Linked DNA regions of Homo sapiens: region 2 is linked to region 1. Evidence: fine-mapped expression QTL. A gene starts in region 1. The other region holds a variant in brackets. All regions are shown on one strand. Distances are from middle to middle. Region 1 holds the start of LINC02822 (long intergenic non-protein coding RNA 2822). Region 2 has its middle 70 kb from the start of LINC02822.

What was found. PIP is the estimated chance that this variant, and not a neighbour inherited with it, causes the effect.
Region 2: its variant is the best candidate, but not a certain one, in a credible set for the expression of LINC02822 in prefrontal cortex (CommonMind, PIP 0.89).

Annotation. Positions count from the first base shown.
Region 1 is chr12:90,587,328-90,600,633 of GRCh38, reverse strand. LINC02822 (long intergenic non-protein coding RNA 2822) reads right to left here and starts at 7,067. Exons shown (of 4, transcript XR_429171.5): 1 at 6,823-7,067.
Region 2 is chr12:90,517,027-90,530,332 of GRCh38, reverse strand. No RefSeq gene overlaps it. Among named protein-coding and RNA genes, the nearest start is that of LINC02822, 70 kb to the left of the region's middle. The variant TA/A (reference allele first, on the strand shown) is at 8,019.

The sequences.
Region 1 (13,306 bases):
GTTATACATTTGCCTGTCTACCAGTTCATGGTCAACTGCAACCTTTCCCAGGGCCAGGCAACTGAATTAATTCAAGGACTCCGTAAAATAAATAAAGTAGGTAGTTAGTTTTGCTGTTAGTAGTAATAGTTCTGCTAGAATGAATGGTTTATGAAGGTAATCAAGTCAAAGGAATGAGGCTGGTTTCCCAGTACATGTTTCCCTCAGATTAGTTCCTTTTGGCTATTTGATTCAAGCTACGTATTTATGTTCATTTAAATCAGGTTTCAGAGGTAAAGAAATATTGTGAGAAAAGGAAGAATGGAGAACGTAGGTATCTTAGTTTGTTTGGACTGCTATAAAAATACCATAAACTGGGTAGCTTGTAGGCAACAGAAATGTATTTCTCATGGTTCTAGAGGCTAGGAAGTACAAGATCAAGGCACTGGCATATTATGCTCACCAGGCACCGAATATGTCAGTGCCTGGTTTTCTGGTTCATAGATGGCACCTTCTAGCTGTGTCCTCACCTGGTGGAAGAGGCAAAAGCAGCTCTCTGGAGCCTGTTTTATAAGGGCACTAATCCCACTCATGAGGGCTCCACCCTCATGACCTAATCACCGCTCCAAAATACCACCTTCTAACACATTGGTGATTAGGTTTTTAACATATGAATTTGGTGGGAACACAAACATTCAGACCATACCAGTAGGACTAAACTTGAAGAACAACTTAACACACAGGCTCTTCTAGGTCCCAAGAGGGAGAAATGTGGCCACTGAAATATGTCATTAATGTATTTATGCAAGCAATTTGCCATTGGCTGGCAACAAACCCATCACAGCCACCATGAATATGACAGACTAATATGGTTTGGCTCTGTATCCCCACCCAAATCTCATGTCGAATTGTGATTGCAAGTATTGAAGGAGGGGCCTGGTGAGAAGTGATTGAATCGTGGGGGCAGAGCTCCCCATTGCTGTTCTTGTGATAGAGTTATCTGGAGATCTACTTGTTTAAAAGTGTGTAGCACCTCCCTCCAACTGCTCCTGACAGCCATGTGAAGACGTGCTTGCTTCCCCCTCACCTTCTGCCATAATTTTAAGTTTCTGAAGGTCTCCCAGCCATGCTTCCTGTACAGCCTGTGGAACTGTAAGTTAATTAAACCTCTTTTCTTCATAAATTCCCCAGCCACAGTTAGTTCTTTATAGCAGTGTGAGAACGGACTAATACGTAGACTTTTTTAATTTACTAAGCTCTGTAATCAATAGATTTTTAAATAACGTTGTATCTTTGGTAAGGGAGACTTCCAGGCAAGTGTTGCAAGTTCAGCTTATGAACTAGATACCTCAACTCTGCCCTCTACCACTTTCTTTGCATTCCCATAAAAAGATTATTTAAATATTTTTATGTTCTATACACTTGTGCTGAAGGAAGGAAGGAAGGAAGGAAGAAAAGAAAGAGAGAGAGAGAGAGAAAGAAAGAAAGAAAGAAAGAAAGAAAGAAAGAAAGAAAGAAAGAAAGAAAGAAATTCCCACGTATGTTACAAAAAATATCATTATTTACCACAACCTACTATACCTTTTCCAAAGAGACATTTTGATGTATCCCTTAAGTTATTATAATTATAATATGATTAAATATTATTGTAGCACACTGAGAGCCTTAATATGTTCTCATTGCCCGAAAATTGGGTTGAAACTCAGGGAGAAGTTTCAAATTTGAGTTCTAAAATGCAATTTAACCTTAAATAATTGAAGAGGAAATAATAAGCATAAAGGTTTTTTTTAAAAAATCTCATAAATAAAAGCCAACATCACACTTTTCTTTAAAAAGGTATGTAATTTTATTATAATATATCCTCGCTTTTGCCTCTTATAGAAAAATTAAGTCTAAAGGTATATTTTGTATACAGCAATTTTATACACATATAGCTAAAATAATTTTTTAAAAATTATCCAGTAAGTTATACCAAAGATGCAATTGATTAAGACGGCTGACTGATAAAACAGATATGAATGCAAAAGTCTCTTAAAGTCTTTACCTTTAAGCTTAAGAGCCTTAACAGGTTTAAGGTCTCTTAAACCTTTTACCACAGAAGTTCAATAGACCCATCTTGAATAGTAAGATGTTAAAGTCATGTCTTACAGTTCTTAAAGACTAAAGTTAATACTATATTTACTCATATTAACTATTATGAGACACCCTCAAGTCTCTCAAAATTTCCTAGTCATTCTTTATTTTATTATGTATTGTATCTGGATGGTAGAAACAAGGTGAAGTCTAAGAAGAATGTTTTTTCAAAGTACTTTTTATTTTTTATTTTCAAAGGCAACAACTTGTTCCAATTATGCCTTGAATTACAGTGGGAAAAGTGTGTGTGTGTGCGTGTGTGTGTGTGTGTGTGTGTGTGTGTGCATGCGCCTATGAGTATATGTATGCATCTGTCTGTTTGGTAGTCCAAGAAGAAACATTTCATCTCTGAGGTTTTTAGTTATAGGTGCATAAAGAATTTGTAGCAATCCTGGCTTCACTAATCTTTAAATTCTCTATCCTTAACTCTTAGGAAACAAAATTTGGTAGCAATACTCTTAGCCATACAGAAAAATATGTCAAGGCCTAATGATTTTGGCAAGAACTAATTGCTAGATCAAGTAAAATTCATATGAGTGAAAACTAATCTTATACAGGGCAATAAAAGCATTTTCAAATTTCTTTTTATGTTTTGTTATGTGTTAAATAAATATTTGATAAACACACGCTCAAGGACCCTCAGGAAGCATTACTGCTTATATTAACAAGGAAAGTGTGTAACAGTTTTTGTGAGCTTCTTTCTTAAAATTAACTTGCAGACAATGCTGCAGTTTGCTTCTCCTTCTTTTTAGTATACTGAACAGATTCTTAAATATGTGTATGTTCTAAAAACAACCTCTGAAACAATTCTAAAAAATAATCTCTCTATATTTTTAACATGTATATTTCACATTATATTACAGCAGTGAGAAAATGTATTTTAAATGTTTAACTATTATATGTGTGTGTATATATAGTGTGTGTATATATACATATAAAATATATATGTGTGTATGTATGTGTCAATTACCAATGGTTATAATCAAATATGTATTTCTCAATAACTAAAGTACCATTTCTGATGTTTTAAGGGATGGCCTGATACATTCAGGGCAACTTTTTTGGCCAATAACAAGGAATAATTAGAAAATGTCTACTACAAAGAAGCTGACTTATCAACTTCAAAAATAAGTAAAATGCCATAGATGCTTACAATTTGTTATTAGTAAATAAGTTAGTAAGGGCCAATTTGCATCCTACATTTTAAGGAAGCTAAGATTATGTAATTCTACAGGCCTGATAGATATAAAATTGTTTTGCTTTTGCCATTCAAGTTATGTTCCTGAAAATTTGTTTGCCTCTCTAATTACTGCCAACTTTCAGTTCATCGTTGTGCCTTTTCTAGATTTGGCAGAACTACCTTGCATAGGGAATAGAGCTTATTTGAATGAAATAAGAGTTACTGCTGAAGAAAGAAGCCTGGTCTGAAAATAATGAATATATATGTATATATATATAATGGAAGTAAGAAACAAAGTATTTTTGAGATATAATAACACAACTGAGAGCTGGATACTATGATATCTATTCATTTTAGAAGTAATATAGAACATAATCAATTTTATTAACGAGAATAAAAGATCCAAAAAGTTACCTGACTGGCCCAAGATCACAAAGCTAGTTCTGGCAGGCAGTATTAAAAGCTAGCTGTCTTGGCTAACAGTAGTTCTTTTCATTAAAACAGTATAATGACTGTTTACTGTGGTCATCTATCAAATATTATTCAAGATACAGTGTTATGTTTATTTTAACTCTGAACTTTAAAAAAATAATCCCAGAGTGTTGTTGGCTAATTGGGAGGCTAGATGCCCTCTGTGAATGATCATCATTAATATAAATGAAAACTCTAATATTATTTTATCATGTTTATATCAATTTATCCATATTGTCAGTTATCAAAGGGACATTTAAACCCTTTTTCCCCCAAAGCTAGATTTTAGACAAATAAAAAGATACAAGAGGCGTGGTGGCTCACGCCTGTAATCCCAGCACTTTGGGAGGCTGAGGTGGGCAGGTCACAAGGTCAAGAGATCGAGACCATCCTGGTCAACATGGTGAAACCTCGTCTCTACTAAAAATATAAAAATTAGCTGGGCATGGTGGCACATGCCTATACTCCCAGTCATTTGGGAGGCTGAGGTGGGAGAATCGCTTGAACCTGGGAAGTGGAGGTGGCAGTGAGCTGAGATGGTGCCACTGCACTCCAGCCTGGTGACAGAGCAAGACCTTGTCTCAAAAAAAAAATATATATATATATGTATGTGTGTATGTATATATATATGCATATATATACGTGTATATATGTGTGTATGTATATATATATGCATATATATACGTGTATATATGTGTGTATATATATACGTGTGTATATATGTATATATGTGTATATATGTGTGAATATATGTATATATGTGCATATATATGTATATATGTGTATATATATACGTATATATATATATATAAGATTTATAGTTAGCCTCAGGGAGAGTTTATGATATTTTATGAGATTATCACATTTCAGGTAGAATGTATTCCTCATGCAAGAGTCGGCCAAATTCATCCAGGAGTTTGAAAATGAATAATTTCCAAATAAAAATATTAATTTTGAGTAATTGAATCAAATAATTACTTCTTCTGTTTAAATTCACATTCAATTCAAATGGAGTTAGCTTCCTTTATAATGTGTATTTGCATTTTCCTGAATGAAATAATATGATATCTAAGATTTGCTTCAAAATTATCCAGTTTGTGTTATGTGGAGTGTGTGTGGGGAAATAGAACAAGATTGGTGAGGGATACATGCAAATTTATTATCATAACATTGCCTCCCCTATTATATAAATATAAGTGTTTTCATAATAAGTACAAGGTGTATATTTTCCCATGTATGTTTATTGAAACTATTATTAACTATATGTTAGAAACCTGTGGAGAATCATCTTAAAATAGACATAGTCCCATTGTTCAGCCAGTAGCACATCTTCTTAACTTCTTTCCTCCCTCCCATAATATATCCCTCTTTTTCATTTGTCTCTTACAATGCCAGGAAACATAGAGACAATGATGTATTTGCCAGCTTTTCCAGCTCGAGTGGGAACAGATAATATGTGTTATACCTATTTACCAGGTGATCGTGAGGTACAGAGAAGCATTGAAGATGAAAGCACTTTGTAATCTGTGAAGAGTGTAAATGTCAATCATTATAATAATGATAATCAGGATGATGTAGGCAATGATAATTGCTCTAATTGTTTTCCTTCTGTTTCATCGTATACAGTCTTATGTGAAATTAAGGTTCTTATTAAATCTGTGTTGATGTTGATCAGTTGCTTATAGCAAAGTAGTAAATAAGTGGAATTCTAAAAACAACCTTCATTTAAGTTCTGTGAACAGTAGGAAGCTTAAGGACTGCATTTGAATGTGCTTTATAACATCTAGCCTAAAATTTTAAGTGAAAAAATAAAGCACTATTTTAGTAGACTTCAAGATACAGTGTTATGTTTAACTCTGAACTTAAAAAAAAAAATCCTAGAGAGTTGTTGGCTAATTGGGAGGCTAGAGGCCCTCTGTGATCATCATTAATATAAATGAAAATTCTAATATTATTTTATTTTATTTTCTATCTTAGTCCTTGTCCTCAGAAATTCAGGTACCAAATTTTAATGTGTTTCTTCATACTTTAGTGTATGAAAATTTTCTACGCTAACTAAAATCTATTCTCAAAAAAAGAAAGAGAAAAATTTTTCCTCTATCCATTCCATGCATTCACCAGTTTTCTTTCCAAATAATCAGAATAATTTTATAAAATATAAAATATGAGCAAGTCTAAATGAGGCAGTGATACAATTATGACAATTCACTTTCATCTCCGTCAATTCTAATCTTACTTAATATAAGGTAGCATGAAGTTCTCTAATATGTATATTTCACAGTGAGATCACTTATTTCTAAATTTAAATACTAAGAAAATTGTTAAAATTCATATTTAAAATGTATGAATTTTATATTAGGTAACAAATGGCACCTTATTAAGGAGATGAAGTGGAGTCAAAACTTTGACAGTGTCAAAATTAGATTATACAACTCACAATTAACTCTAAAAGGCTAGTAGCATTTTTTTTTAACTAAACAACTGGGTAATCGAGTTCACATGTAATAATTACTGCCTAAAAGTATGAAAACAGTTAAGCAAACTTTCTTCTGACATTGTAATCTTATAAACATTTTTTAAAAATATATTTTAAATATCTATTAAAATATTTTAGTATATAAAACATAAAAGATATAATAGGTTTAACATATGCTAGTATTTTACCACATTTGCATCTCGTCTTTAAAAAAGTAAATACAGCTGACAGCAAAAGTCTTGCCCATCATGTCATTCTTTTGTCTCCCCAGACATAGGCATAGTCTGATACAGCATGCATTTTTTGTGCATGATTTTACACTCTTACAACATATGTCAGTACCATGGACAAGTGTGTGCTTTAAATTTTACAGAAATGATTTCATATTGTACACAGCATTTTATTTTCTAAGTTCCCAAATCATAAGAAAAATCACAATAAAGTCAAATGACATGTTTAGCTCACTCTAATTATAGAGTATGTCTCAAAAATAGCTCCTTTTGCTGTCACCCTTTCATCAAAAAGATATTTGAGTACATGAAACACAAAAGGTTGTTATAAACATTCTCTTTGTGGTACTTACCTGTAGTTAAATCATCCCAGCTTTCACAATTCAGTAAGCAATTACTCACTTCTTGGCTCTGTCTCCTCTTGATTAACATGAAGTTGATAGAAGAATTCATTAGTGTGAGAAATTATTAGGATCCGATAGAGTATAAGTGTCCAGTGGCATTATTAAATTCATCTCTTTATTCTCTGAACTGATAAAGTGAGTGTTTGTAGAGATGTAGATCTGACACTTGCTTCATTCAATTCCATTACATAACTGAAAAAAGAAAGCAAAGAGATGAGCTACAAATTGGTGCAACGCAAATTTTTTTTGGAAGTCAATTATTTGCAAATTGACAGATATTTTACCACAATGTTATATACAGTGGCTATTATCCATTCAGCCCAGAAATTCTATTACATTAATCATGAGTCCAAGGGTTAGAACTATGTTCAAAGTATGAAGGACTACCAGAAAAACACTCTACAATACCATTTGAGTTGACATTCCTGAAGCAATGGGTCAGGGGCTTCTGTGCCACATCCTCTGTCTCTGTCAAGCACAAGAAGTAGGATATTTCCAGATACAAAATGCTGGTACTGGTTGATGGCATTTGCGGTCAAGGATTCAGCAGGTAACTTGAACGTTAGCAGCTGAGGTGGCTAAATCCTTGATCAAATAGAACCCAAGGAATATTAAACACCGGGGAGGGAGACCAGGAGGAAAGGTCTAAGGAATTTGGGGGCTCAGGGATCCCAGATACCATGTGCCTCCACCTTGAATTCATTTTCCAGTCACCTCCCTTGCTTTAGGCATTGACCTGATGGTCCCACTTTCACTCTTTCATCCCTCCTTCTCACAAGTATTTCCCATTCTCTCTTCCACTGAAGGAAACACATCACACTGATTACATGGCCCATTTTTGTGGTGGAATTCAGGGAGCCAATTGGGCCAAGCCTCCATGAATAAAGGGTCACAAATTTTGACTTCTACTTTCATCGTCAAATAAGTTTTTGCACATAGTCATGGAAATACAATATTGAAAAGATTGAAATATATCATTTATCGACCTTTAATTGTTCAACTTAGGCATTTAAAATATATCACCATAATCATAATACTGCTTTGTACTTCTTTGGTTTTTTCTTTTCTTCTTCTTCTTTTTTTCTTTTTTTTTTTTGAGACAGAGCCTCTGTAGCCCAGGATCACTGCAAGCTCCGCCTCCCGGGTTCACGCCGTTCTCTTGCCTCAGCCTCTGGAGTAGCTGGGACGACAAGCGCCCGCCACCACGCCCAGCTAATTTTTTTTTTTTTTTTTTTGTATTTTTGGTAGAGACAGAGTTTCACCGTGTTAGCCAGGATGGTCTCGATCTCCTGACCTTGTGATCTGCCCGCCTTGGCCTCCCAAAGTGACTTCTTTGGTTTTTAATTTGCTTGGATCTCAAAAGGATATCTGAAGCATGATTCTTTCTTAATTCTGTGAAGGCGTGCCTACACCTTACCATTCCTAAAGACAAAAATAATTGCTCACTTGTATTTTATTTTTGTAGTAATAATTCTTAATATCCTTTTATTATTTTTGGTGTCACACCTCAGTAGACAAACTTCTGGCATGAATGCATTGCTTCTCTTTCTGCAACTGCAAAAGACACTGCTAATTGATGAGGCTCTTTCTTGCTGAGACAACACATTGGTCTTAAACCTTTCTAAACATAGCACTCCAAAGAGTCACTAATGATTTATTAGTTAGCAAGTGAGATGAACTATATCTGTGACCTCCAACTTAGATCCTATAGGAAAAAACAAATCATAGAGGTTTGCTAAAATGGGCCTTTGAGTATAAAATAACTTAATATTTAATTACCCCTGACAAAATGGTGAAAACCAGAGATTGTGTCTCTCTATGGAATTACATCAAATGACCTGAGCCTGAAGGAAAGTAGGAGGTAAGATAATGTTGAAGCTATGTGAGTGAACTGAGGAAAACAGTATAGGGCATTGAACATGCTACCCGGAGACCTTAGAGATGAGAGAGGAGGCCTCGAAATTATTTTTTAATATTTATGTTATTTTTCCCTGTACCTTCTCTTTCACATCATTCCTGTCCTTCCCAAAGTGTCGTCCTCCTGGATCAGCCCCATGTAATATCAGAATGTTAGAGTTGATATGAAAGTAAGAGCTGCGTATAATAGTAGGTAGAGGAGGAGAGAAATAAAATCCAAAACAGCAATGAAGAGAGAAGTATTTTCACTGTGGCCTCAGGAGCAACTTCTCATAAATAGTTTTTTACATAAATGACATAGTGTATGGTGAGTACCTGTAGTGTCTTGTAGTGTCTTGAATTCCAATAAATTGCCTAATAATATTCCACTATGTGTAAATTTGTCTTGCTTTTTTTAATTTTGAAAGGCAGATGCCCTGGGATCATGTGCCTGGTGACTGGTGATCTCCTTTAAGGGGAGAACCCTGACACACTGGATCATTATTATTGCCTCAGGAATCTGCAAGGTGCTCATTGTTTGTTGTGAGCATTGGAATTCCTGGCAATCTCCACAACTGATAAATCAGACATATCGTAATGGACAGATAAATGAAGACAAACGGTCTTTCAAATGTTACTGTCATTTCAAAAGAAAATTAAAAGAATTCAACAGAAAACATGGGGTACTAACTGCTGTAATAAACTCCAATTTATAGATGTTTAACACAAATGAAGGTTATTGGTGGTTGGCTTTCCCCACGATCGTTTGTTTCATCTTGTGAAATTCCCATGTTCAATATCTGAATCTCGAGGTGACTCTGTAGGCTACCTCCTGCAACCAGCCAGATTGGGAAACGATCATACAGTTTCATGTGGAGGTCGTTATGGTCCCAACCTAGAAGTGGTTCACATTCCTTCTGTTGCATTCCACTGGCTTGAACTTAATCACATGAACGCAACTAACCAAAAGGTGGGCTAGAAAATGTAATCTATCTGTATCCCTATAAATAAAAGGAAATGAATTTTGGTGAACACATAGCCATTTCTGCCACAATCTATGCTATAAACTGTTTAGACAGATTTCTTGTGTTTCTCATGTAGTCCTTACAACAATTAAAAAAGGATACTATCTCCATTTTATTGATAAAGAAGTTCAAAAAACATTGGGACTTGAAGATTATTCAGCTAGAAAGCATCAAAGATACAGTTTGAGGCTGATTTCAAAATGAATCCTTTAAGTCAATGGATCCCAAAGGCCAGTCCATGTGCAGCTGCAATAAAATTATTTAGAGAGTATGTTTAAATGTAACTTCATGACAATAACTCTTGGAGATTCTTATTCAGTAGCTTTGGGTTAAAGCTCAGTATTATATAATTTTAAAAGCTCCCTAGGTAGTTCCATGCACAGCAAAAATTGAGACCAGCTGCTCTAAATTTTGTGAAATTGGCCACTGAATGGACACCACCGGGGCAGGAAAATTAGCAGTAATCAATTGCTTTCACAGGGCAAACAACAGCATTGAACCATTCCCTCTGTCTTTCTATCTTTTATTAAACATGAATAAAGCATTGAAGTGTTCAATAGCTTCTCAGAAATAACTGGTAACATGGTGATGATGTTTGAATGGTGGCATTTGTCCATATAGGAGTGAACTAAAAGATGTGGTCATTTTAAATGACATTATTCACTGAGCAACCATGAAATAATAACTTTAGTAAGGACAACCAGATCATTACTCAGCTGGGTGGCATTTGAATTGGTATCCTAAAAAGCTCCCACTGTTTTGTTTCCAAAGCTGAGCTTCTTTCTTAAAACACTGTGAAAATTAGTGGGACTGGAAATGATAATGCTTGACAAAATCTTTTATTTTTTATTTTTTATTTTTTTGAGACAGAGTCTCGCTCTGTCACCCAAGCTGGAGTGTAGTGATCTCAGCTCACTGCAACCTCTGCCTCCCAGGTTCGAGCAATTCTCCTGTCTCAGCCTCCCGAGTAGCTGGGACTACAGGTACACGCCACCACATCCAGCTAATTTTTTGTATTTTTAGTAGAGATGGGGTTTCACCATACCGGTCAGGCTGGTCTCGAACTCCTGAGCTCAGGTGATCCACCCGCCTCAGCCTCCCAAAGTGCTGGGATTACAGGTGCAAGCCACTGTGCCCAGCCTTTATAATTTCTTTAAACTAAAATTTGACAGCGTACTTTGCCATCTTTTCCTGGACCATAGCTGTTCTCGTGAATATCATGGAGAAATGCAGAAACTGTTAAAGGACATTTCCTGCTTTGAGCTCTTTGATATTAGTATAATCTCCCACTGTTAACTTTTAGAGCACATTTAAGCTCTTAACCTAATGTTGTTCTGTGACAATTCAAGTAACAAAATATTCTCTATGACAGATTTTTTTCATGTTTGTAAGGCTATTTTGCAGTGCTAAAATAAACATAGAAGGTGCATTCTATAGTTTGGAGTTACAAATTTTACTGACATATATGTAAGTATATATAAAGCTTAAATTGCCAAACATAAGTACACTAGTGGAGAGTGCAAATTCCTTGTGATTATCAGTTATTGCTTAGAGTCCAAATTTATTGAGTATAAAACACCAGGATGAGGACAATTTAGAGAGTTTATTTAATTTCATCAGGGTTCAGAAAACTTCGATGCTTGCTGAAAGTGAGTCACACATGTGTATGCACGTTTGGACAATACTCAATATAAGCCATAATTTGAAATTACAGATAGTTCATTTAATAAAAATGCAAAATCTGCTGTTTTCTTTGTCTTTTAAGAATTATTTCCATGTGTTGTAATTTAGCACAGTATAATTTGTTTGGAAAATTAAAGTAATAAAACCTTAGTTTGTTGTGTGTTTGAATAGTGGCAATGATTGTCTCAGTGGGTGGCTGCAAATGTGGGAAGAAATCATTGTCAAGATATGCAGACAGAATAAGTACTATTTACTAAAGGCTAATATATAAGAACTAATAATAGGCATATTGTCACATAAAAAATTAACTCCCTAGGAGAACTTGAACAGTTAGCTTCAGTGCAGTTAGCATACATATGTTTTCCTTTTAAACCACTGAAATAACCTTCTGGAAGGAAAAGAAATCCAGAGCAATCTTTGTCATTTTCTGTGTTACATTATGTGGTGTTAGGTGGTAGACTATGAAGTGATTAGTAATGAAAGATGATTATAATCATTGGATTATTAATATTTTAGTGGCATGATGAAATGATTATTATAATCATGTGAACCACCAGGAACACATGTAATTGTGATAATTCTGAGTATTATTTTATAATTTGGAAGATTAGCACATAATAAGAGATCAATGAAGGACAATTTCAGAATGAGTGTGTATGTGTGAAAGAAGAAAATTTTTGGAAAGCAAAGCTAAATAGCTAAACAATAAACTTTCTAGAACTGTTCTCATACCTTCTTCTGCATGGGGATTTTGGATTTTTCTTATGTGAGATCCCCTAAAAAGACAAAGATTTTGGAAAGATTCCCTAGATTTATAAAGTTCCAATTTCCAAAACAAGAAACTTTCTGTCAAGAGCTGGTAGGCTAAGAGTTAAATATAGTAGCATGATTCATTGACGAGGATATATTGCTCGGAGTGGAACCTCTATAATTGTTTTTCTGAGATGAATTATTTCAGACCTACAAATGAACTTGTCTTTGTTTTATAAGAATATGATCAAGACTGGCAACTTTGATCAAATTAATCAAGAATCGTAAATATATGGAAGTGCCAGACTCCTCTAATAGGCACTTTATGCTAAATTTTTCAGTTAGCCCCACAACAATCCTATGAGGTTAGTAATATTATTAAACATTTCTTACTGAAGAGGAAATAGAAACATAAAGATGATAACTAGCTTGGATGCACAAGGATTCAAGGATGCATAGTTAGCAAGTAGCAAAGTAGTTATCAAGCCTAGGCGGGCGCTGACTCCAGAATTCAAGCCCAAGGTCACTTCTCTATACTATTTTACATTGTATTTAAGAACTACATGAACATGAATGCATGGTGTGATGCTTATAGTTTCCTGATGCTTATAGTGTCCTGATCCTACTTCTGCATAAGCCATGCAAAGGTAGTGACCCAGACTGTAGAAATGCGTCAGAGTGAGATATACCAACAAAATGAAACGAGTGAAAGTAGTATAATTTTCCAACATGTATACACTCTCTCACACACACATACACGTGAGAGGAGAACTAAAGATTAGTGACAGGGGATTTATAACATTATAAAATCTGAGAGCCTGAAAACAAAGATCCAAGGCAGAGCTAGAGGAACACAGGTATGGGTCAGTCAGGTGCAAGTTGAGAACACAGTGATAGGGTTCAGAATGGTTAAGTATAAACAGAACTAGTGTGACAGAAGTCATTCTTACATAATATTTTTTTAGTTGGTACCAAGATGGAGTAGATGCAGTATGTGGTAGTAAAATCACAGGTAATTAACTAAATTGTTAAAAATTGAAATATTGTGCTCATTACTGATTTGTCTCCAATATTTATCT
Region 2 (13,306 bases), 70 kb after region 1:
TACAATAGTAAAGTATTGGGGAAAATCAGATTGTTTATCAAAAAAATAGAAAAATTAACTATATTATGTTCAAATTATGCAAAAGTATGCAGAGACTTAAAAATGAGCTAGTTCCACATATACCAACATGGAAAGAACTAAAAGTTACATTATTGAATAAAAAGTAAAATTATGGCATATTAGATGACACCACTATATCAGAACATCACAAGATAGGATAATTGAAGGGAGCCCTACAGTTGCCCCAGATTACTGCTTTGAAGAATTTCTAGGGAATGGCTCAGGGAGAGGGAACCCAGACAGCACTAAGCAGACTTGTTGAAGAGACAAGCTAAGAGACAGGGTAGACCCTGGAAGCTGCAGTTGACAGGACTGAAAAGAAGTAAACATAACAGAGAGACAATTCTATAGATCTATAGAGAGTCCAGTCAAAAAATCAGCAAACTCTAATCAGTATATGCATTTGAGGATGCTATCCTAAGTAGGGGAAGACACCATCAAATGAATTAGAGAAAATAGTACCCAGGGAGCATACAGATCTGGGAACAGTGGATGGTCCAAAAAGGCATCATGGAAAATGTCATAATTTACAGCTTTTGGTTAGAATATAAGAAGTGGTTAGCCTCAGGAATGAGGAATAATTATGCCTCAGTTAAATGCTCCTCTCATCTCACCAAACAAAGATTAAAAAACCCAAAGGATCAAACTCTTACCATGTAACTCAACTGCATCCCAGGACAAAGCTCAAAAGTACACATTTAGAAATACAGAACTATTCAGCATCCAACAAGGTAACTTCACAATGCCTGGCATCTAATTAGGGTTTATCAGATAATGCAAAAGGAGCAGATAATATGACCCATATTGAGGAGAAAAAAAATCACTCAAAACTGTCCCAAAACTGACATTGATGAAATAACTAACAAAAAGTATATCAAAATAGTTCTTGTATTTGCATTTAATATGTTCAAAATGTGTCTATCAAATTCTTCAGAATACTAAGAGGAAGAGCACAAAAACAATATTAATTTAAAAATTAAAATGTTGTCTTTTCATTCATTCTTTTATTACTTCATCCCTGAAATATTGAGCACTTTTTTTAATATAAAGATGTTTTCAGAGGGCTCATTGCTTAAACATAAACAATAACAGTATAGTATAGTATTTATATTGTAAATAAAAGTAAAACTTATGAAAGGAAAAATATGAAAGCATACTATTTTAAGATTCCTATATTCTGTAATACATCAAATGTTATAATATCACTGAATGCAGATTATGGTAAGTTAAAGATATAAAATACTTAAATAACCACTGTAGTAACAAAACAAAAAGTTAAAAAGCCATCAAGGGACCAGACGTGGTGGCTCACAACTTTAATCCCAGCACTTTGGGAAGCTGAGGCAGGCGTATCACCTGAGGTCAGGAGTTTGAGACCAGCCTGGCCAACAGGGAGAAACCCCATCTCTCTTTAAAAAAAAAAAATTAGCCAGGCGTTTTCGGGAGGCTGAGGCAGGAGAATCACTTGAACCTGGGAGGTAGAGGTTGCAGTGAGCCGAGATCATGCCATTGCACTCCAGCCTGGGCAACAAGAGCGAAACTCCATCTCAAAGAAAAAGACATCAAAGGAGATAAAATAGATTATAAAATGTATTTAATACAAAAAGTGGCAGAAAAATCAATAGCAAAAAACAGACAAGACATATAGAAACAAATAGAATTATTCCTAATCATATTAATGGTCACAACAATGCTGGGTGCAGTGGCTTATGCCAGTTAATCCCAGCACTTTGAGAAGCCAAGGTGGAAGAATCACTTGAGGCCAGGGGCTCAAGACCAGCCTGGGAAACATAGCAAGACCCCATCTCTACAAAATATTAAAAAAAAAAAATAGCTGAGCATGGTGGCATGCACCTTTAGTCCTAGCAGCTTGGGAGTCTGACGTAGGAGGATCCCTTGAGCCCAGGAGTTTGAGGTTGAGGTTAACTATAATCATGTTACTGAAAACCATCAACTGAAAGACATAATTGTTTTCTTTTCGTAGTACCAAATAGTAATGATAACAAGAGTTATTTTTGTTAGTTTAAATTTTATGACCTATGATGTTGCTAAAGTCCTGTTTGGACTATGTTAACTAGTTTCTCCTCACGCAATATATTAGATCTCTCTCTCTCTATCTCTCTCTCCCTCACTGTCTCTGTCCTTTTTCTCTCCTTCTTTCCCTCTTAATGTTTACCTTTGTTTCTTTCTCTCTTGTTTTCAACAGCTTAGCATTAATAATTTTCTAGAAGAATTTCTTGGCCCCAATCTGCTTATGCTATACCAAGCTCCCTTTCTTCATCCTTCTCAGAACTCTGAACCTAGTGTCACTCTGGAGTTATCTGGTTTCAATGAAAAACAAGCCTCTTTGTGTATTTAACTCTCCTAATAGTTCATGAGCTCCTCAGTGATAACGCCTTTTGCATGTTTGTATCACTTGTAACCAGCAGAATGATTCGCTCTTAATAGGTATTCAATTCATATTTACTGAATAGATGTACTTTCTTTAATAATTTCCATTAATACTGCTTTTGTTACTTGATGCAAAATACGACACTATGAAATTTACATTTGTAGGATGTGTCATGGGAATAGAGATAGATGAAAAGAGTTTGTACAATTAAAGGAAAAAACTCCCTCAAGAACGAATTATTCTTCAAGGGAAACATGCTCCTGGCAGAGAATTTTAGTAAAGACAACTCAGTGGTGGTAAATGAAGTGCTGATAATTCTAGGTCAAGTCAGGTCACAGAAGGAATTTTGCTAAACCTGTTGGAATAATGCAATATAAAAAATCCTCTTCAATTTTCTGCTTAAATTTTGTCTCCCTTGTTTTAGTAACAATTTGCCCCATAACTTAAAAGAATATTTAACAGCTTGTTAGCAGGTGATATTAATTTTAGATTAAAAGTTATTTATGCAAATTAAAAAAAATTAAAGCAGATATACATCTGTCCATTATATTTCTACAGAAATAAAAATAGAAGTTATTAACTATGGCTAGTAAGTGTTAAATGTTAATTTTGGGTCCATACTCCTTGTGAATAAAAAGCACTTATAGAGTAGACCCCAATTTATTTGTTCTATGGAGAGGAGGGGGAAGAGGTAGGAGGGGGAAGAGGTAGGAGGGGGAAGAGGTAGGAGGAAAAGAATAAAAGTAGGATTTCCTGAAGTTTGGTGATCAAGAATAAGCTAAGGGACTTAAGGAGAAATATAAAGTCAAAATAAAACATTAGCCCTGGGAACACTTACTTCTTTGATTATATAAAAATTATTTTATTTCCCAAATGAGATAAAGTGAGGCTTACAGAGATATTGCGTCCTCTTTATACACTCTCACTATAAATGAGAACCTACAACCTAGACTACTATTTTGTCCTCTACACCATTCTGTCTAAGAATCAGGCTGTTGATTGTTTGATTTGTGGAGAGATAGAAACCTATGATCCTGCTTTTTGGACATGCCATAAGCTGAGATTAGTTGTAGAGAAAGAACCACCCACAAATATCAAAGGGAGAAAATCAAGTGTGGGCCACTGAAAGACAGTATCATTCTTCATTGTGAATCCACTGAGGATCCAGGATGAAAGGAAACTACATTACAAGTAAGCAACCAACGTATTTTTCCAAGCATCTGTATGCTATAAGCTGTATAATCTTAGAAAAATTACTTAATCCAATATGGGAAACTGAGATGGTCTATTCAATAACTTTGTTGTAAAAAGTAAATAAATTAAAACATGCAAATGATTTAATGTCTGGTATTATAAAGCATACAAATCTCTAACTAGGTTCTGGTATACAGTAAGTACTCTATAAATTTTAGCAATTATACTAATAATGAAAATAGTATCTACTGTTGCTGATGATTTTGATTAGCAAAATTTTCAGAAGGTAAAAATAAGACCCAATGAGTAAGAATTCCTTGAAGTCATGGACTGAAAGAATTCTCAGTGGAAAGACTTATCTAAAATAATAGTAATAGCACTTAATACGTGTCAGTCACTGTATTAGACTCAGCCTTATGAAAAAGCATTTATATCTATTTTATGCTGAGAAAAATGAAGACCAGGGCAGTTAAGTGGTTTGCCCACCCTTATGTAATGCAGTTGTTGCATGGCAGAGCCAGGATTTACACTATTTTTTTCTAATGCTAAGGCACAGACATTTTCCAGTGCTGCCTTTATTGTTTAGTCATTGCATGCTATAGAACAAATATGCATTCTCTTAAATTTGGCAGTATGTGATAGAAAATAGAACAAGGGAAGAAGAGAGAGGACTGTCAGCAATTAAATGAAATCTTATGTTAAATAAATGTATGACATAAGTATAATGATAGTATATAACACATTTGCCACTAGTAGTGTCTGCTCCTCAGAGATGGCTGAATTTGGCCTGAACTTATTTGCAGAGCCTAAACTATCTAGAACACTCTTCAAGATTTCAACTATAGAAACAATACTGTATTTCCTGTGGAAGACAGTGTGGTGATTCCTCAGGGATCTAGACCTAGAAATACCATTTGACCCAGTCATCCCATTACTGGGTATATACCCAAAGGAATATAAATCATGCTGCTATAAAGACACATGCACACATATGTTTATTGTAGCACTACTCACAATAGCAAAGACTTGGAACCAACCCAAATGTCCAACAATGATAGACTGGATTAAGAAAATGTGGCACATATACACCATGGAATACTATGCAGCCATAAAAAATGATGAGTTCATGTCCTTTTTAGGGACATGGATGAAGCTGGAAACCATCATTCTCAGCAAACTATAGCAAGGACAAAAAACCAAACACCACATGTTCTCACTCACAGGTGGAAATTGAACAATGAGAACACATGGACACAGGAAGGGGAACATCACACACCGGGGCCTGTTGTGGGGTGGGGGGAGCAGGGGAGGGATAGCATTACGAGATGTACCTAATGTAAATGACCAGTTAATGGGTGCAGCACACCAAATGGCACATGTATACATATGTAACAAACCTGCATGTTGTGCATATATATATATACGTATATATATATATATACACACATATATATGTACATATATATATATAAGAAACAATACTTACACAGCACTTACTAAATGTAAGGCTATGCTAAGCACTTTTACATGTATTAACTAATTTAATCTTCATAGCAACCTTATGAAGAAAATACTATCATTGTTCCCAATTTCCACATGAGAAACCCAAGGCAGAGGGAGGTAAAGTAATTTTTCCAATTTCACACAACCTGTGGTTGGTAAAATTGGGATGGTCACCCAGGCAGTTTGACTTCAGAAAAAAAAGACTCTAAACAAAGACATATTTCCATATATTATTTCCTTGTGCTTTTCTCCTTCTACATGATCCTATTTCATCAGTTCTGTATAAAAATGAGCCCAGTATCATGAGAATGAAGAAGGCTCCCTTTCCTTGTACTGGTTTCCATGAGAAAACCAATCACATCAAATCTGCCTTAGGTTCATTCTCTGGGAAATGGGCTCTGGTGGAGTTTGCATGGGGGAGGTTTATTGGGCAATGCTTTCTAGAACAACTCACATAGACAAGGGAAGGAAGTAAGAGAGGGCATGGGGAGAAGTTGAGCTGCAATACAGCAGCCACAAAATCCTCAGCTAGTCATCCATGGGGAAGCCACGGAGCTAGGAGGACACTTCAAGGATGTTCCTGAGTGAAGTCCTTACCTTGGTACATAATAGGGAAGAAGATTCAGAGGTTTGAGAAGTGCTATCTCCAACTTTCTTGCCGGGAAAGGCAGTCACATGCCTGCAATCTTTCAATTCTGCTCTGCAACATAAGAATGGGCTTTGGGCCTGGAATGCTTCCTAACCAAGAGATAGGGAGACCTCAAAGCCTGTGCTGGGATTATAACTTTGTGTGGGAATATATTTGCCTGTTTCAGATCCAATAATAACTTTGTCTTTCTATTTAAGCATTTGCTTCACGTGATACCAGGCCAACTCTACCACCATAACCCATTCTTAGCTGCGGGAGGAAATAGGTTCCTTCACTTGCAGAACAAGAGGAGTGCATGTAGTTAATCAGTGTGCATTGGCTGCAATACAACCCCCTGAGCCACAAGGATTGGCACCCACTATTGAAGCTAATCTTGTTCTGTCTCCTCTATGTGGGTAAAGCCATGTTCCATCCAGTGCATGTGTGAGTTCTATCTTTCTTATTGACCCTGAACCATGATGTGGATTGGCATCCTGGGTATGCTGCTTCTGTGGAATGGGAATCCTTCCCTGGAGGTTATAACAGGAATTCCTCGATCAACGCCTCTAATTAAATGCCAGGCATCACCAATTCTGCACAACTTTAGCCATCTGTTCAACACCTCTGGGGTTACTTTCTCTTCTTGGGAGTGACTCAAGGAATAGGGATGCAGGCTATCTTCTAAGGGAACTGAGCAGCATCTTTAACCTCTGGATCTTCCTTCAGAGAGAAATGTCACTCCCTGGGGATCTTGTTTTCCAGATACTACAAGAAGAAAGTGTTTTCAGAAGGTAAGTATGGTCATCCCTGTTAAATGTTGCTGCAATATCAAGTATAAATGAGAAGAAACCTTTAGATTTGGCAACCTAACCATCATTAGTGATGTTAAAATGAATGGACATGGTAAAGTGGCAGAGATGAAGGTCTGAGTAATTCAGAAAATTGCACACTTTTGCTTTTCCATGTATCTCTATGGACTCTCCCTTCTTAAACTCCTTTCCTGGCTCCTTCTCTTCTGTTGAAGCTTTAAATCTGGAATTACTCCATACTGAACATCTCTGTATACACACTTTTGCTGGGTGAGCTTAGCTAATTCGTGACTTTGAATATCATATGCAATGGGCTGAATGTTTGTGTTCACCCAAAATTCATATATTGAAATCTTAACCTCCAATGTGATGGTATTAGGAGGTAAGGCCTTTTGCAGGCAATGGAGTTATGACGGTAGAGCCCTCATGAAAGGGATTGTGCCCTGATAGAAGAGAACCCAGAGAGCTCTCTAGCCCTCTTTTTCCCATTTGAGGACACAACAAGAAGTCAGCAGTCTGCAACACAGAAGAGAACATGCTCCAGAATGCTTGATCTCGAACTTCCAGCGTCCAGAACTGTGAGAAATAGATTTGTGATATTTATAAGTTCTCCAACCTATAGTATCTTATTATATTAGCTCAAAATGTCTAAGGTGTCATATATTTGTTAATGATTTCCAAATTTATATTTAAATCACTGGCTTATCTCCAGAAATCCAGACTTACATTTTATAATTCCTACTTTATATCTCCGCTTAGGTATCTAGTAGAATCTCAAAATTAAGGTGGATAAAGTTATCCAAATTCTCCCTTACTCCCTGAACCTACTTTTTAAAAACATCTTCACATCTAAATATATATACCACAATTAACCATCATAACAACAAACTATGTGTTATCTCTAATTTTTCTTATTTTCCTCCCTTCTCGTCCATATTCAAGCTATGAACTTCTTTTCACTTGTAATATTTTTAAGGTTTTTGTTTTAGACATCTTCATAGTGAGACAAAATATCCTTAGGTTTTGATTTTTGACTCCACATGAGACTACTTTTAGGAGGTGGGTTTATTCTATTTATATGTCTTGTTATAAGAGATGTGTCTTGACTTTTAATTTCAGCATTTTATTTTATATTCTCTGATTTTAAAACTTTATTTTATTTCCATATTTGGTAACTGTATTGATCCTGTTTTTTTCTTGTTGATACACTCATTATATATTTAAGTGGCTACTATTTACAGATGGCAATATTCTACGAGCTGAGATGATAAGAGTGAACCCAGCAGACAAAATTCCTTTTGTCCTGTAGCTGGGTGATTTTTCTAATGGTAATTCAGATCATCATATTATTTATTTTGATTCCATTTTATAGTAGTTACCTTTAAAATTTTATTTAATATATATGAAACTCTATTTCTTTTTTTTTTTTTTT[TA/A]GGTAATATGGCTTCCCATTCTAATGAGAGGGATTTTCATTCTCTTATTTTGTTGATGACTTCAAATAGCATAACTAACCTATATTTCTTGACTTTTTCACCTTAGGTAATATCTATATTCTACTAAACCAGATGAGAAAATTACTGTCTTTATCTTTCTCCTCTCTTTCAGTTTTTCATATACAGAGTTTTAATTTTATTTAGTATTTTTAAATTGTCTAGATTTATAGTATATAGTTTTGTAATAATATTTACCTGTATTTAGACTGAGGGCTCCATTTAAACAGATCCAAAGATCACCATTGTTCCATTAGACCATGATTATGGTTACTTTGTAGTTTGTTGGTTTTGCTTCTTTTGTTTATTCATGTTATCCAGGATAGTCCCAGGGTTTATTAGGTTATGGGTTCTTGAATATTTGAAAATGTATATCTATTGTCTTTATATTTTATTAATCGCTTGCACACAGAATAATTCGTCTCAGAGGAGATCATCTAAAACTAAGACTTTAGGTTCTCTTCTCTTCTTACCCTCCCTTCCTCAGAGGCTCTGCCTTTCCCGCTAGAAATTACTTATGAATTTTTATTATTTTTCTTCCTTCCTCCAGTTTACACTGAAAACAAGAAAGTCCAAATTACTGAGTCCAACTTTTCTTATTTCAGGTGAGATACTGGTATTTTTTAATATATTTTCCTCAGAATTCTTACATATTCCCTTCTTCCATTCATTTCTAAATTGGGAATATCCCATGTCTTTGGGGCACATGAATTTATTGGCGATGCTTTGCATGAAGACAAAAGACAGAAGCGATCAGCTGTCTCTGAAAAGTCCTCACAGGGTGGCATTTAAGAAAGTTCTGCTCTTATCCTCAACATTGCAATTTCATCAGTCTCACTGACCCATAGAAACGTATGAATAAAACAAAAGTCGCATTTTGAAAATTAACCTATAAAGCACATAACTTTAACTAGAAACATAATACTCTTAGTGATCTGAGAGTTTTTCATTAGAAGCATATTTACATTGAAAAACAATGATGATCAAACTATGATCACTGCATCTCTTGTTAAACCAAACAAGTAAGTTGGATGATCTTAGAAAATGCTTTTTATCTAAAATAGTTTGAGTCCTCTTCCCCAATTGCAAAACATAAAAGATTATCTCAATTTTTAGAGGTTAGAAAATTGAATTTTCGAGAAGTTAAGTCACCTGACCCAGCTCATATAGCTAGAATGACATAAACCTAGTCTCTCTGGTACCAGACCCTAAAGTTTTGTTCTGCTCTGTCAACTAGGCAAGAAAGCTGATAGGTTTCCAAGATCTTCATATCACTTCCTGTGGTGTCCCAATTACAAAATCCTTAGAAACATTTCATTCATTTATTCCTTCAATTGTACTTTTTCTATATGGAACACCATATCAGATATTGTCAATGCCCCACCCATTTCCCCTTGGGACCCAACTGCCGAAAGCTGCTTAGTGAAAATACCTGAACCCTCTGATGGAAGGTTTTTGTTTTTTGTTTGTTTGTTTGTTTTTGCTGTTTTGTGTTTAGTTTTGCCTGAGAAACATATCAGCCTTCACTCAGGGAAAACTAGACATAAAATAAAGGTAACATTTCTAGGAGCAGGCCTCAGTGGATTATAGTCAAAGATTTGGTAAATAAACACCATAGGTCCTTCATTCTCTAGCTGGAATAATTCAGAGCTATTTTCTGCGCTGACTCTCACATTGCTCCAGGGAACTAAACTCCCATCTTCTGGATTGATAACCTGCCTATTGTTTCACTCATTTGGGCTTCCTTCTCTTCCCTATCTCATTTCCTCACTTCCCTACTAGTTTTTCTGGATGACCTCTCAAACTTTAGGAAATCAAATTCTTGCTTCAAGTCTATTTCTGGGAGATAAACTAAGACAAAAGCATACTAACTGCTCATTGTTGTTGAAAGATGTGGGGATATAGAAGTGAAAAAGCAAATTCCCAGATGTTAGAAGTGAGAAAAATTATTTACAACTTGGAAATAGGCAAAGAGATTAGTGAGTTTCCTTTCAGTGCAGTTTTGGGCTTGACTTACTGTCAATAAGGCTATTTTACAACTCTGTTGGGCAGAGGTTAACTCATAAACTTTTGTCCAATAAAGACGTAAATGATTTCCATCCAATGAACTAGATAGTGCCAAAGGTTACATTTTATTTTTCTGCCATACATTAATAATCCTGTATAACCCAACTTCTTATTGTGATATTTCTTTATTAAAGTGCCTATTTCTACCCAATGCTTTTATGCAAGTTTTAACATTATCTTGGTCGTCTTACTAATCAAGGAATAGAATTAACATTTTAACATGTATCCTTTTTACATTTGTCTGAGAGTAATGTTTTATAGTCTTTGGAAAATTAAACTTGAGCATAAAAAAGAAAAACAACCAACATGCACACACACAAGTCATGTCTTGACAAGTGTTATAAAGAAAAATAAAGCAGGGAAGAGACTAGATGTTGATGGTTTTATATTTTATACAGAGTGGCTAAGAAGACATTTGAGTGGAGACTTGAAGGAAGGGAGACTGGAGGTCATATGGTTATCTAAAGCACAGGTATTCCAGGTAAGGGGAAAAAACAGCAAGCCTAAAACCCTTTAATAAGAATAGGGTTGACAAATTCAAGTAACAGTAAACAGACTATCAAGGTAAAAATAGAATGAGTTGTGGTGTATGTATGTGGAGAGGGAGGATGGTAAAAGATGAAGATATCAAGTGATGTGGGACAGATCACATATAGCCTTCTAGACTGTTTCAAGGATGCTGACTTATACTGTAAGTGAGATAGAAAGAAACCACTGGGGGATTTTGAGCAAGAGTGATATGATCCACTTTGAACAAAGGATCATGCTGGTTACAGTATTGAGACTGGACTATAGTGGAGTTACAACAAATGCACAGAGACTAGTTAGAATGCTATTATTTTTTCAATTTCAGCAAAAGATATTGGTGCCTTGGCTCAGGGTGATAATGATATTGAAAAATGTTAGACCTAAGATAAATTTTGAGACAGAACTACCATAATTTTCCAAGATAATTGGACGTAATTTATGAGAATGTACATCAGTCTTTAATTTACTCATTCTTTATTTTTTTCAAACATTTAATGCAAGATATACACTAAGTGTACAATAAAATAGCACCTGAGATTCACGTAGACTTTTGCCACAAGTCTAACAAATTTGGGATTAATACAGTTATGTCACTTTAGAGACATTTTAATACTTAAAACTGCTACTTCCAAAAAATGGTGATAAATGTATCAGAAAAAAAATTTAAAAAGAACTTGTGACAGTAACTTAAACATAGAGGATTCTGACATAGTCAATACTGAGTCTCTAATTTTCAGGGAAGATATTCATACAAAGAAAAGCCAAGTTTATTTTCCACTAATGGAACCAAAATGCACAAAAATAGATCTATTTGCATGGACATTCGAAATTTGAAACTAGGATTGTAGAATTTTAGCAATCTTTTAAAAGGATGATATTGGTTTTAGAAAACAATAGCCCATCATTCCAGACAACCTGAATCACTAACTTCTGTAGGACTTTTGTTAAGTATTGATTATGATAATGTTGTTGCTAAACTGAATAAGTATCGTGTATTTCATACTAAGAGTAGGTCTGTAAATTTTTCTGTCAACTACTCCTTTTATCTTTAAATAAAGATGTGTTTGTTGTATCTTCAACAGTTTATTTCTTAATAAATTGATCTTCAAAGCAATGTGTGCAAACCAGAGATCTTGTGAAAGATGTCCCATTGAATGCTAGAAAAAAATATGTTGATGATCCAGAAATAAATGATTTGTACCCAACAAATGATTGTTTAGGAGCTGAACTGCAAAGTGACTAGAAACAACTCTTAGGCTCTGGTTCAAGTGTGTCAGAGGACAGGAAATGAAGCTACTGAAGAAGGAACTTTGTCTGCAATGAGGAGCTCTTACTCTGTTACACTCACAAGAAGAGATGCCACACTCAGGAAAATTATACCTGGGCCTATTATTCAAATGATGAAGAAAGATGTAATGGTAATAGGTTATATTGAAGGGAGGCCATGTAGAGGTTAGATGTGAAAGAGAATAGGGTACTTGCTGTTGATATGAGCAGACTCTTGAGTACTGAATGTTGTGGCAGCTCCCAAGTTAAATGAAAACTAATAATTCCAATGCTAAGCTTATCTGCAATGAATTAAAAATTTCCTTTAGAAAATTTTTTTCTAAAGGAAATGTCTTAATTGGACTTAAAAGGAGTGTCTTAATAGGCCCCTTTAGAAAGCAGAGACAAAGATGAAGTTGATAATACATTTGGGAGGTACCAGCCCAGACAGGTGAAAGTAAGGAAAGAAAAAACAAGTGAAACGGAATATTCGAAGCAAAGCAATGTGATATGTCACCATGCCAGCTGTGGCTTTGTGACAAACTGGGAATAGGCAGAAAAGATCTCTCAGCAGGCTTGTCAGCTTCTGGAGCTTCTCCAGAAGGCAAAGAAGTACTGCCATTCAGACTAGTCCACCAAATAAAGTAAGGAAGAAAAATTGATCTTCCCAACTCTGATCTTGCATTTCTCATTGGTCAAGATACAAGCCCTAAACTTTTGGGTTGCATCATTCTGCCCCTCTGTGGCTAAGAAGCCAGAAACTACACTATGCACTGAGATGTTTTATCCAAAACGAGAGAAGAGTGACGACCCCGTGTGGGTACAGGAAGCTCAGGCAAAAGTCAATGGGTGCTATGACAGATAGATGGAATACCTCAAGAAATAGAATTTCATAGAGGAGAAGGTGAAGAAAACAAACTACAACCCCAGGAGAAAAGGGCTAACTACATGCAGCATAAGTACCAGTGAATCCATGGATTGGAGCTAAAGGGAGTCAAGTATATGGCACGATATTTAAATAACATATTTAATTTTAATAATAATTATGGTAATAACAAAGGACCTTTATTCCATGCCCCTTTTTCAGCTTTATAGAATCTTTATCTCTATTAACTGTGAGGAGGAGGGGTTCTGGCTGTTACTAGCAACATGATAGGACCTAAAACTCTAAATTCATGTCTCTTGAGGAGGGTACTTTGTTATTCCCTAGGAGGCTCCTCAAAATGGTCAGGAAGACAACCTTGGATTATACTCTGTATAGAGTAAGATAAGGATAGGATTTTGAAATATGCCTTTTTCAGCTTATTTCACAAAAACTTGATACATAGATTCCCAAACTGACCAAATTAATAAAATAGGATGCCAGTTT